Regions from separate parts of the Homo sapiens genome. Here region 1 is linked to region 2. A link means that fine-mapping ties the variant in region 2 to the expression of a gene that starts in the linked region. Tissue or cell type: whole blood. Region 2 holds a variant in brackets; the other region holds the start of a gene. All regions are shown on one strand. Distances are from middle to middle.

What was found. PIP is the estimated chance that this variant, and not a neighbour inherited with it, causes the effect.
Region 1: ABHD14B starts here. The variant in region 2 is fine-mapped to the expression of ABHD14B in whole blood (INTERVAL, PIP above 0.99).

The regions. Positions count from the first base shown.
Region 1 is chr3:51,970,847-51,978,467 of GRCh38, reverse strand. It overlaps ABHD14B (abhydrolase domain containing 14B), which reads left to right and starts at 4,419. Exons shown (of 4, transcript NM_001146314.2): 1 at 4,419-4,503; 2 at 6,770-7,008. The coding sequence starts at 6,798. ABHD14A-ACY1 (ABHD14A-ACY1 readthrough) reads right to left here and starts at 3,404. Exons shown (of 17, transcript NM_001316331.2): 1 at 3,264-3,404; 2 at 386-597; 3 at 94-209. The coding sequence starts at 521. It overlaps ABHD14A (abhydrolase domain containing 14A), which reads right to left and starts at 3,404. Exons shown (of 5, transcript NM_015407.5): 1 at 3,264-3,404; 2 at 386-597; 3 at 94-209. The coding sequence starts at 3,332. RefSeq lists silencers at 2,201-2,495, 3,101-3,480, 4,311-4,480, 4,701-4,850 and enhancers at 4,081-4,260, 4,294-5,230.
Region 2 is chr3:51,598,901-51,602,900 of GRCh38, reverse strand. The region is part of intron 3 of RAD54L2 (RAD54 like 2); the gene reads right to left. Among named protein-coding and RNA genes, the nearest start is that of RAD54L2, 62 kb to the right of the region's middle. The variant G/A (reference allele first, on the strand shown) is at 1,670.

The DNA.
Region 1 (7,621 bases), 370 kb before region 2:
TTGTGACCTGCCACGGCCTGTCCAGACCCTAGGGTCCAGTTGCCTCCCAGCCACACTTAAGGCTTCCCTAGACAAAGGGGTGGGGGTGCTCACCTGGAAGGTCAAGGGCCACGGCCCGGTAGCCCCTCTGTGACAGTAGCTGCAGTGTGCCCAGCTGCTCCCACGTGTGAGAGTTAAAGGCCTTTCCATGAAGCAGCACCACCTCCACCCTGCAGGCACACAGGGGAATGTGTTTGCTGGGAACCTGGTGTAGCCCACCTTTCTTTATTCCTAGGCTTCTCCCATTGCCCTCCCAGGACCTGAGCACCCTGAGTATAATGGGGGTCCCACACAGGGACTCCCCTTGAGCCTAGTCCCTCCACTAGACCCTTGGAGCAGCACCTACCTGTGTGCCTGGTTGAGTGGGAGCACCTCGCGGTAAAAGATGGGCGAGTTGCCAGGGGTGAGACCAGCCAGGACTGTGACATTGGGGTCTCCCCAGAGGCAGGAAGTCTGCTCAGGGGGGCCTGGCAGCCCCACATACAGTAGGAGCATGAGCAGCAGACTCAGGCCCAGCAGGGCTACCTGGGACCGGCTCATGGAGGTCTGTACCACAGTCTGGAGAGGGAGAGGAGAGGGAAAAGAGGCTGGAACTGAGTCCCTACAAGGACCCTGGATCCCATCCCAAAACCCCACCCAGAGTCCCCAGCAGAGGAAGAGCTCCAGCCCTTGCCCTTTCCCTTGCTCTGGGCAAAGTTCTGGGAGTTCACACTCAACTACTCCACATGCCAGGGCAAGCGCTCAGATACCTCACAGTGTGAGGAGGTGCATCTGAGGTGTTCTCTGGCACACAGCATGCTCAGTGACCGCCACCATCATGGCATCAGCTGAAACCACTTCCGTTCATCAAGCGCTTATGACAGCAGGCCCTGAGTGTGGCACTTCACATACAAGGTTCTTTTCCACCAAGAATGCTGGGGAGCAGACGTGATTATAGGTCTCTTATAGGTGAGGAAATGGAGGCTCAGAGAGGTACATTCTCTTGCCCAAAGTGCCAAGTAGCAAGTGGGGGAATTGGGGTTTGAACCTAGGAATGGGCTTCTAACTACCAGGCCACACTCGGTTTGCCAAGGAGGAACCCGTGGAGCTGGGAGATGATGGATGAACTGGAGCCTTGCAGGTGGAAAAAGTGATGAGGGCTATCAAAGGAGAAAGACTGCGCGCAAAGGGACCTCCCACTTAAGGGCATGTTTGGAAATGGTTCTTTTAATCTCACTGCATTTAATACTGCTAAAATCAGAACGCGTTTTACAATCGCATTATAACTAAGGTCTAACCCAGCTGTTATGAAGAGGCTCACAGAGAATGTCTTGTAATAGAGGAAAATGCTGAGGAGTGAGGGGCTGCAGGGCCAGGGAGGAGCATGGTACACCCAGAAATGAAAAGCACAGTGTAGAGGTTGGAGAGATGAATGCCGCCTGCTACTCCCCATCCTACACACAGACAGCTTCTGGCCAAATGACTGCTTCGTGGACTCCTCCAATCTGGGGTCTCTGCCACCCCAGAGGACAGCCCTTAGGACCCAGGACTCAAACAGGACAGGCCTTTGAGACTGCCACTTCCTGACCTTGTGTCTTCAGTTTGTCAGTAAAATGGGATAACCTCGTGGCTGCCCTCCTAAGCTTCCTGTGAGATTTAGATAATACCGTGGACTGGATCAGGGCTGTCCCTGTCATTTCTTGGGCCTAGGATGAGCACGCCTGCTTCCTTCCAGGAGTCCAGCAAACACATCTTTATTTTATTTTTATTTTTCTGAGACGGAGTCTTGCTCTGTCGCCCAGGCTAGAGTGCAGTGGTACAATCTCGGCTCACTGCAACCTCCGCCTCCCGGGTTCAAGCAATTCTCCTGCCTCAGCCTCCCGAATAGTGGGATTACAGGCTCCCGCCACCGCGCCCGGCTAATTTTTGTATTTTTTAGTAGAGACAGGGTTTCACCATGTTGGCCAGGCTGTTCTCGAACTGCTGGCCTCGTGTTTCACCCGCCTCGGCCTCCCAGAGTGCTGGGATTACAGGCGTGAGCCACCGCGCCGGGCCAGCACATCTTTATTGAGTGCCAACTGGGCGCCTGCCCGAACTAGGAGCCGGGGGCCCGTCTTGGTTCCTATTCATCCCTCCGGGATGTTTTGGGGATGTTTCCTGAGCCCGCATCCCCAGGCTTCGGGGTCGGGGGGCTTGTGAGCCACAGCAGCAGCCGCCTTTCTGCTGTTTCTGGAAAACCAGGACCTAGTGGAGGAAGAGCGCGTTCCTCTTTTCTTCCAGACCACTAACAACCTCAGACGCGCGTCTCTAACTGGGCGTTAGTCCAGATTCCCACCGGGCGCGAGGGACATTTCCTTGCTGCCCACTCGGGGCGCCCCCGCGCTTCTCCAAAGCGGGAAGGGCGGGGCTTAGGCTGTTGCCTTGGCAACCGAGGGTGCCCGCAGTACTAGGAAATTGTAGTGGACCTGCAGCTGGCCGCCTGCGGGGGTTTGCGGGGGGCAGGGTAAACTGTGCCCGGGTTAGGTCATTGGAATATGCGTTGACAATGACACACAGGTGCACACACGCACAAATACGAGTCTTGCCCCCACACGCTTTTCTTTTGCACAAGCTATTCCCTGCATGTACATGCAGCCTCTTTGCACACACACTGGCCCGTGTGCAATTAATCCCTTGTAATGGTACCCTCTACATCACGCACACAGTCAGGCATCAGGAAGCCAGAGAGACTGATGGAGATGCACACTTTGAAAACCACAGGCTGATCCTCAGAAATACTCAAGCACGGTCATACACACAACCGTAAGACTACACATTCACACAAGAAAGGCACATGCACAGGAAAGCAGACACGCACACACACACAAACCCCCAGAAATGCACACACGCAGACAGGTAGACACATACCCTTAAAATCACACGCACACAGAAATACACTCGGAAGACATAACGCTGACACAAGCAGGCAGACATCAACGAACACACCCCCCCCCCAAAAATATAAGCGCGCAGAAACCCACTGACGGACACCATGCAGACACACAAGCGTACACATACACCCAGACCCCCAAGAACATATGCAGACCCTGCGCGCGCACACACATTACACGCGCGCACATGCACATTCGCGGCCCCAGCGTCTGCTTCTTCCGCGGGACTCTGCCCCGGGGCGCCGGGGCAAGGGGCGGGGTAAAGACGGCCCTCCCCTGGGCCACCGGCCGGCCTCCCTCCCCCGGGAGACTCACCGGGCCCAACGGGATGAGCGGGCGGGCCCCGCCCAGGCGGAACCAGCAGCCGCACAGCGCCCCGACCATGGCTGCCTCCGCAGCTCCGCGGGCCGCTCCGGCTCTAGGCGGCCAGGAGCGCGGCCATCTCGGCGCGCCTGCGCACTCCGCAGCCGCGGGCCTGCAACCCAGTTACCGAGTCGTCTGCGTGGAGGGGGTGCTGGGGGCAGAGCCCCAGCGCTCTCTGGCCCGCTCCCCGCCCAGATTTTCGGAACTGTTTTTGGCTTGAGAGCCGGCGGAGAGCCATGTGGCTTCTTCTCAGTGGAACATCTCCACCCTGGCTCAGTTCTCTGGCCTGTATAATGGAGTTAAGGATAAAACCCACCGCACAGGGTTGTCCTAGGTTCTTAAGGACGGGTCAAGCCTCAGAACAGTGTCCGGAGCAGAGGCCTCGTTGTGTAAATGCCAGATATTGTTATGCAGCAGCTCCAGGTCTTGGCCGACCCACTTTCCTGACTCCTACCCACTCCTCCCCACCCCCTCCCCGACGCACACCCACGGTCAGAGCCTGGGCTGGCCCTGGGCTCGTTCACGTCTACTCATGGCGCCTGCCCTGGTTGGCGATGTGTTACCAACGTCTGGCCTGTCCCAGCCCAAGGCTCCGCGTGGCGACCAGGCCCAGCACTGGGAGGCTGTGCAGAGCGTGGCGTTTACTGCTTATTGCTACTCTGCAGAGGTTGGCAACATCTGACCCGCTCTACTGGCAGGAAACAGGCTCGGGGGCATTGGGAAAACGATCAAGGCCACTTGGCTGGACACTGGCGGAGCCTCGCACTCAAACCTGTCGGGCCTCAACTCCGTGCCAGGCCAACAAGTTGCCCTGGGCAGTTCAAGCTGGGGATAAGGGGGATGGGGAGCAGGAAGACAGCAGCAAGGATGCGATCCCGAAGGAACTTTCCTCCTCAGACTGCTCCATGTCCATGTGGGGCAGGTCGCTGAAGAGTTCGAAACCGTGCTCAGCACCGCGTTTGGGGCATGTGAGACCGAGAGGCTTTGGGAAACTGACGCCGCTGTGAGAACGAGTTTAGCGGAGTCTATGGACGCTGCGAGCTTGTGGCCACAAGAGGGCGCCCCGGAGCACGGCCCAGTCCCCGCCCCCGCTGGATGGGGCCCGGCCTCTTCCCAGCGTTCCTCCTCCGGCCCCAGGTCACCGCCAGCACGCGCCTGCTTCCCGTCTGCGCGAGTCCACGCAGCTCCCCAGGTACCCGCCCTGCACTCCTGACCCTTTCTTCTCTCCAGTCAAAATCCAACCCCACCTACCCCAAGTCTTCCTTTCTCGGATCCCTGGGTCCCCTCCTTGGGAGTTGCCACCATTCCCTCCCGGTGCTCCCTTCCAGAGCTAGCGAGCCAGAACCGTAGTCCGCGGAAGCAACCTGACCGCGAGGTCAACGCGTTGGGCCCCAGGTGGCAGCGCGTTGAGCACCCCGCATCCCCGGCGGGTCGCCTTTCCCACTGGGCGCTTCGGTTTCCGCCTCTAGAAAATGGGCTTTCCGGTGTGGAAGCGCGCCTGTGGTTCCAGCTACTGGGGGTGAGCCGGGAGGATCACTTGAGCCCAGGAAGGTCAAGGCTGCAGTGATCCATGATTGCGCCACTGCACTCCAGCCTGGACGACAGAGCGAGACATCTTCTCTTAAAAAAAAAAAAAAGAAAAAAAAAAAAACCGAAGAAAATGGGCTTTTAGTTCCGGCGCGGTGGCTCACGCCTGTAATCCCAGCACTTTGGGAGGCCAAGGTGGGTGGATCACTTGAGGTCAGGAGTTCCGGACCAGCTCGGCCAACATGATGAAACCCCGTTTCTACTAAAAATATAAAAATTAGGCCGTGCACGGTGGCTCACGCCTGTAATCCCAGCACTTTGGGAGGCTGAGGCGGGCGGATCACGAGGTCAGGAGATCGAGACCACCCTGGCTAACACGGCGAAACCCCGTCTGTACTAAAAAAAAAAAAACAAAAAATTAGCCGGGCGTGGTGGCGCGTGCCTGTAGTCCCAGCTACCCGGGAGGCTGAGGCAGGAGAATGGCGTGAACCCGGGAGGCGGAGCTTGCAGTGAGCGGAGATGTGCCATTGCACTCCAGCCTGGGCGACAGAGCGAGACTCCGTCTCAAAAAAAAAAAAAAAAAAATTAGCCAGGCATGGTGACGCACGCCTGTAAACCCAGCTACTCGGGAGGCTGAGGCAGGAGAATCGCTTGAACCCAGGAGGTGGAGGTTGCAGTGAGCCGAGATCATGCCACTGCACTCCATTCTGGGCAACAAGAGTGAAACTCTGTCCCAAAATAAATAAATAGAATAAAATAAAATAAAATGGGCTTTTTACCCCAATTTGGGCTCCCTCTGGCCTGCATTGACAACTCATGACCTGTAACTTACCGTTGATTGAGCACTGAGCCCTTACTACGTGCTAGGCATGGTACATGCATGGCCTTATTTAATCCTATCAACCACCTATGAGCTAGTACTATTGAATTATCCCCATTTATAGAAAAGGATAATAACGATGAGAATAAGAACAGTAATTGTAATGGAGCCCCACCACATATTGAGGTTTTACAGCAGGCACCCCCACTGATAATTTTTCTGTTTTTTGTTTTTTTGAGATGGAGTTTTTCTCTTGTTGCCCAGTCTGGAGTGCAATGGCGCGTTCTCGGCTCACTGCAACCTCTGCCTCCTGGGTGCAAGCAATTCTACTGCCTTAGCTTCCCAAGTAGTTGGGATTACAGGCGTGTGCCACCACAGCTGGCTAATTTTGTATTTTGAGTAGAGATGGGGTTTCTTTCTGCATGTTCATCAGGGAGATCTCGAACTCCTGACCTCAGGTGATCCGCCCGCCTCGGCCTCCCAAAATGCTGGGATTACAGGCGTGTGCCACCGCGCCTGGCCTAATGAGAGTTACATGTGACCATCAGCTGGCTCTTTTTTTTTTTTTTTTTTGTGACCGAGTCTCACTCTGTCACCCAGGCTGGAGCACAGTGGCACGATCTCGGCTCACTGCAACCTCTGCCTCCCGGGTTCAAGCGATTCTCCTGCTGAGTAGCTGGGACTACAGGCACGTGCCACCACACCTGGCTAATTTTTTTTTCTTTTTAGTAGAGACGGGGTTCCACCATGTTGGCCAGGGTGGTCTTGAACTCCTGACCTCAGGTGATCCACCCGCCTCGGCCTCCCAAAGTGCTGGGATTACAGGCGTGAGCCACCATGCCTGGCCGATAATTTTTCTTAAACTTTTAATTAAATTGCTAATTCTTGAAGTTGGCTTTATTGTTCCCATATTTCAGATCAAGAAGCTGAGGCCCCAGGTTACACACTAAAGTAAATGGCAGAGGCAGAAATAACACCTATGTCCTCCTGACCCCAAGGCATGTTCTTAAAGTTCTGGAAACCTCCTGGAGGCTTCCTTGCTGCTCCTCTGGGACTGCCACCCTGGGCAGGGTGTTCTGTGGCCCCTCATCATCGTGGTTTTGAACCACAGGCCCTTCACCAGCACAGCAGCAGCAGGCATGGCAGCAAGCGTGGAGCAGCGCGAGGGCACCATCCAGGTGCAGGGCCAGGCCCTCTTCTTCCGAGAGGCCCTGCCCGGCAGTGGGCAGGCTCGCTTCTCTGTACTGCTGCTGCATGGTATTCGCTTCTCCTCCGAGACCTGGCAGAACCTGGGTACACTGCACAGGCTGGCCCAGGCTGGCTACCGGGCTGTGGCCATTGACCTGCCAGGTACTTAAGGGGCAGGCTTCTGGGCAGGGTTTGGGGAGGTCTCATTAGGGACAGGGCCAGGTTCCTATAACATGTAGCCCCTCCCCACTCCAGGGGTGGGGGCGGTGGGATCTGGAGGACCCAGCCAGGCTGGGCCCTGAACTTGACAGCGTTTGGTCAAGCACACTGCAAGGGCCTCTGAGCAGTCTTGATCCAGATGTGGTCCTCACCGCCCAGCTGCTCCTCACTGTTACCTGGGCATTGTCTCAGTGTCTCTGAGCCTCTGTTTCCTCATCTGCAATGGGAGATAACCACACTCATGTTTTGGGCTCGCTCTAATGAGAATGGAATGAGATAATCCATGTGAGTATGTGGCTAGTACCTGACACAGAGTAATCGGTGCTCAGCCAATTGGAAGTAAAGTATTTTGACTGAATAATAACCATAGGCTTTTGGAAGCCCTAAGGAGTGAGACCTGAGTCTTCTGGGGGACAAGGCAGGGCCTGGTGGGTGGCCAGGCCCCCACTTGTGATCCCACATGCAAAGCCCTGAGCTGGGTTCTAGGGTAGATGGGATCAGTGCCCAGACTGCCTGTCATAACCCAGATGGCTGGGTCCCAACCCTCGGTGCCAGG
Region 2 (4,000 bases):
TCTGTCTCTAAAAAGGAAGCACCACCCCAGACTTTACCTACTCTCCCTTTCTTCATAACACTTATACCTTCTGACATATTGTTTATATACTTGTTTACCATTTATCTCTACCTACTAAAATGAAAATCCCATGAGGAGAGGCATTTTTGTTCCCCATTCCCAATGCCCACGACAATGCCTGGCAAACAGCAGGTGCTCAATAATTATTATTGAATGACTGGATGAATGTATCTCTTTCCCCTGCTGCTCTCGCACACTGTTATTGCTTTCCTAATGCCCCCTGGTCTGTTTGAGACTTGCCATTGTTTTAGGCAGTGATACTCATGGGGCTACACAGCTTTTTAAGCAACTTCGACTCCAAGCCGACTCTTAACTACCAGGTACCTAACTAACAAGAAATTAATTTCCACTAACACATTTGACAAAGTCTATTCTGATAGTCCTATAGATCATATGGTGATCTGTGGGCTGGAGAGTAGTCACGTAGATTCACAGACAGATGAATAACCTTATTCACTGAATGATAATGGTTCATCTAAAGGGAGATCTTTACCAAAGTGCCACTAAGTTCTATTCTCAGTTTTATCCTATTCCATTTTTTCCCCATGATGTGGATAGTCAGTAGTCTGACGGAATTCATTATCTAAGCAAAATGAAAGCACATGCCCCACAAAGACTTGTACATGAATGTTCATAGTGGTCTTATTTGTAATTGAAAACAAAAATAAAAAAACAATGCCCTGGGCCAAAAAAATAAGAAAGAAAACAAAGCTGGGTGTGGTGGCTCACGTCTTTAATCCCAGCATTTTGGGATGCAAAGGCAGGCGGATCACTTGAGGTCAGGAGTTCAAGACCAGCCTGGCCAACATGGTGAAACCGCGTCTCTATTAAAAATACAAAAACTTAGCTGGGCATGGTGGCAGGCGCCTACAATCCTGGCAACTCAGGGGGCTGAGGCAGAGGTTGCAGTAAGCCGAGATCGCACCACTGCACTCCAGCCTGGCGACAGGGCAAGACTCTTTCTCGAAAAAAAAAACAACAAAAAAACAAAAAAACACATGAAATGGATAAACAAATTGGGATACATATCCATAAAGTGGAATACTACTGAGTAATGAAAGGGAATGAGCTATTCAAACATACAAGAATGAATCTCTGGCTGGGTGTGGTGGCAAATGCCTGTAATCCTAGCACTTTGGGAGGCCGAGGAGGGCAGATTATCTGATGTCGGGAGTTCAAGATCAGCCTGGCCAACATGGTGAAACCCCGTCTCTACTAAAAAATATAAAAAATTAGCCCGGGCGCGGTGGCTCACGTCTGTAATCCCAGCACTTTGGGAGGCTGAGGTGGGCGGATCACGAGGTCACAAGTTCGAGACCAGCCTAACCAACATGGTGAAACCCCATCTCTACTAAAAATACAAAAATTAGCAGGGCGTGGTGGCACGTGCGTGTAACCCCAGCTACTCAGAAGGCTGAGGCAGGAGAATTCCTTGAACCCCTGAGGCAGAGGTTGCAGTGAGCCAAGATCACGCTATTGCACTCCAGCCTGGGGGACATAGCGAGACTCCCTCTCAAAAAAAAAAAAAAAGCCGGGCGCAGTGGTTCATGCCTGTAATCTCAGCACTTTGGGAGGCTGAGGCGGGTGGATCACAAGGTCAGGAGTTCAA[G/A]ACCAGCCTGGCCAAAATGGTGAAACCTCCTTTCTACTAAAGATAAAAAAAAAATTAGCCAGGCATGGTGATTAGTTAGGAAATACATTTATTTTAAAAATCGTGTTCATAACAGTACTCTTAATTTCAGTTCTTCTATTCCATATCTGTATCTCCTCTGCCCCACAGTGAGAACCTTGTTTCCAACAGCATCAATACATTTACTTATTTGCCCAGTCCTACAATATACTCAAAATAGGTGGGTTTTGTTTTTGTTTTTGTTTTTTTGAGATGGAGTCTCACTGTCACTGAGGCTGGAGTACAGTGGCGTGATCTTGGCTCACTGCAACCTCCGCCTCCTGGGTTCAAGCGATTCTCCTGTCCCAGCCACCCGAATTGCTGGGATTACAGGTGCATGCCACCACACTCGGCTAATTTTTGTATTTTTAGTAGAGACAGGGTTTCACGATATTGGTCAGGCTTGTCTCTGACTCCTGACCTCACGTGATCTATGCGCCTTGGCCTCCCAAAGTACTGAGATTACAGGCGTGAGCCACCGCACCCAGCCTCAAAATAGTTTCAAATAGTTTCATTACAAACAATAAATCTAAGTAAAGATCAAGGTTTTACTTTATTTTTTTGAGACAGAGTCTCACTCTGTCACCAAGGCTGGAGTGCAGTGGCATGATCACAGCTCACTGCAGTCTTGACCTCCCAGACTCAATGAGTCTTCCTGCCTCAGCCTCCTGAGTAGCTTGGACTACAGCTGTACACCATGCCTGGATAATTTTTAAATTTTTTGTAGTGATGGAGTCTCATTATTTTGTTCAGGCCAGTCTTGAACTCCTGGGCTCAAGGGATTCTCCTGCCTTGGACTCCCAAAGTGCTAAGATCATAGGTGTAAGCCATTGTGGCCAGCTCTAAGATTTTTCTTTTTTACAGTACTTTTTTCCATATAATATGTCCCACTGAAGCTATATAGACAAGAGTACTATATTAAAAGTTACTTGGGGCCAGGTGCGGTGGCTCACGCCTGTAATCTCAGCACTTTGGGAGGCCGAAGCAGGCGGATCACAAGGTCAGGAGTTCAAGACCAGCCTGGCCAGCATGGTGAAACCCCGTCTCTACTAAAAATATACTAAAAATACAAAAATTAGCCAGGCATGGTAGCAGGTGCCCATAGTCAGTCCCAGCTACTTGGGAGGCTGAGGCAGGATAATCACTGGAACCCAGGAGGTGGAGGTTGCAGTGATCCGAGATCACGCCACTGCACTCCAGCCTGGGTGACGGTGAGGCTCCGTCTCAAAAAAAATAAAAAATAAAAAAGTTACTTGGGGCCAGGCACAGTAGCTCATGCCTGTAATCCCATCACTTTAGGAGGCTGAGGCGGGTGGATCACTTCAGGCCAGGAGTTTGAGACTAGCCCGGTCAACATTGTGAAATCCCATTTCTACTATCTGGTTGTTGCAAAAGTAATCGCGGTTTTTGCCCTTTTTTTTTTTTTTTTGGTAAAAAATACAAAAATTAGCTGGGTGTGGTGGGGTACACCTACAATCTCAGCAATCTCAGCTACTCAGGAGGCTGAGGCAGGAGAATTGCTTGAACCTGGGAGACAGAGGCTGTAGTAAGCCAAGACTGAGCCACTGCACTCCAGCCTGGGTGACAGAGCATGAGACTCTGTCCCAAAAAAAAGAAAAGAAAAGAAAAGCTACTTGGATTATTTTTTTTCACATTTTTCCCACCTTTATTCAGGTTTGATTGTATACTATTTATATAAAACTAATAAAAATCAAGATAATGATCATGTGTCACCCCTGAAAGTTTTTCTTATGCCGCTTTAAAGTCCTTCTCTCCTCTCTCTGCCCCTAATCCTATCCCTAGAAAAGCACTAAGCTGCTTTCTGTCATTAAGGATTGGTTTGTATTTTCTAGACTTTTAATATAAATGGAATCACATGATGTATTCTCTCTTGCTCTCTCACTCTCTTTTGGAAAAACTCTAAAACCATGTTTTTCCTCTGCTCTCACACCACTACAACAACAATCATCACCACAGAAGACTTCTAGTGACCAAATGTGTGGAGATTTCTCCCCACCACCAAGCGACCAATTAATTCTGCAGTAGGTATCAGCTAGGTGTCCTCCAAATCAATTCTAACACTATCTACCTGGAAATTATGTCAGATAGTGTCAGATCCATTTAAGTGCTCAGTCACAAGACTGCCCCCCGACGCACACCAGTTGATAGGCTTCATGTTGGGGTTCCCATGAAGCCCTCTTTGGGTTCAATTAATTTGCTGGAACCACTCACAGAACTCAGAGAAATGTTTACTGGTTTATTATAAAGGATACA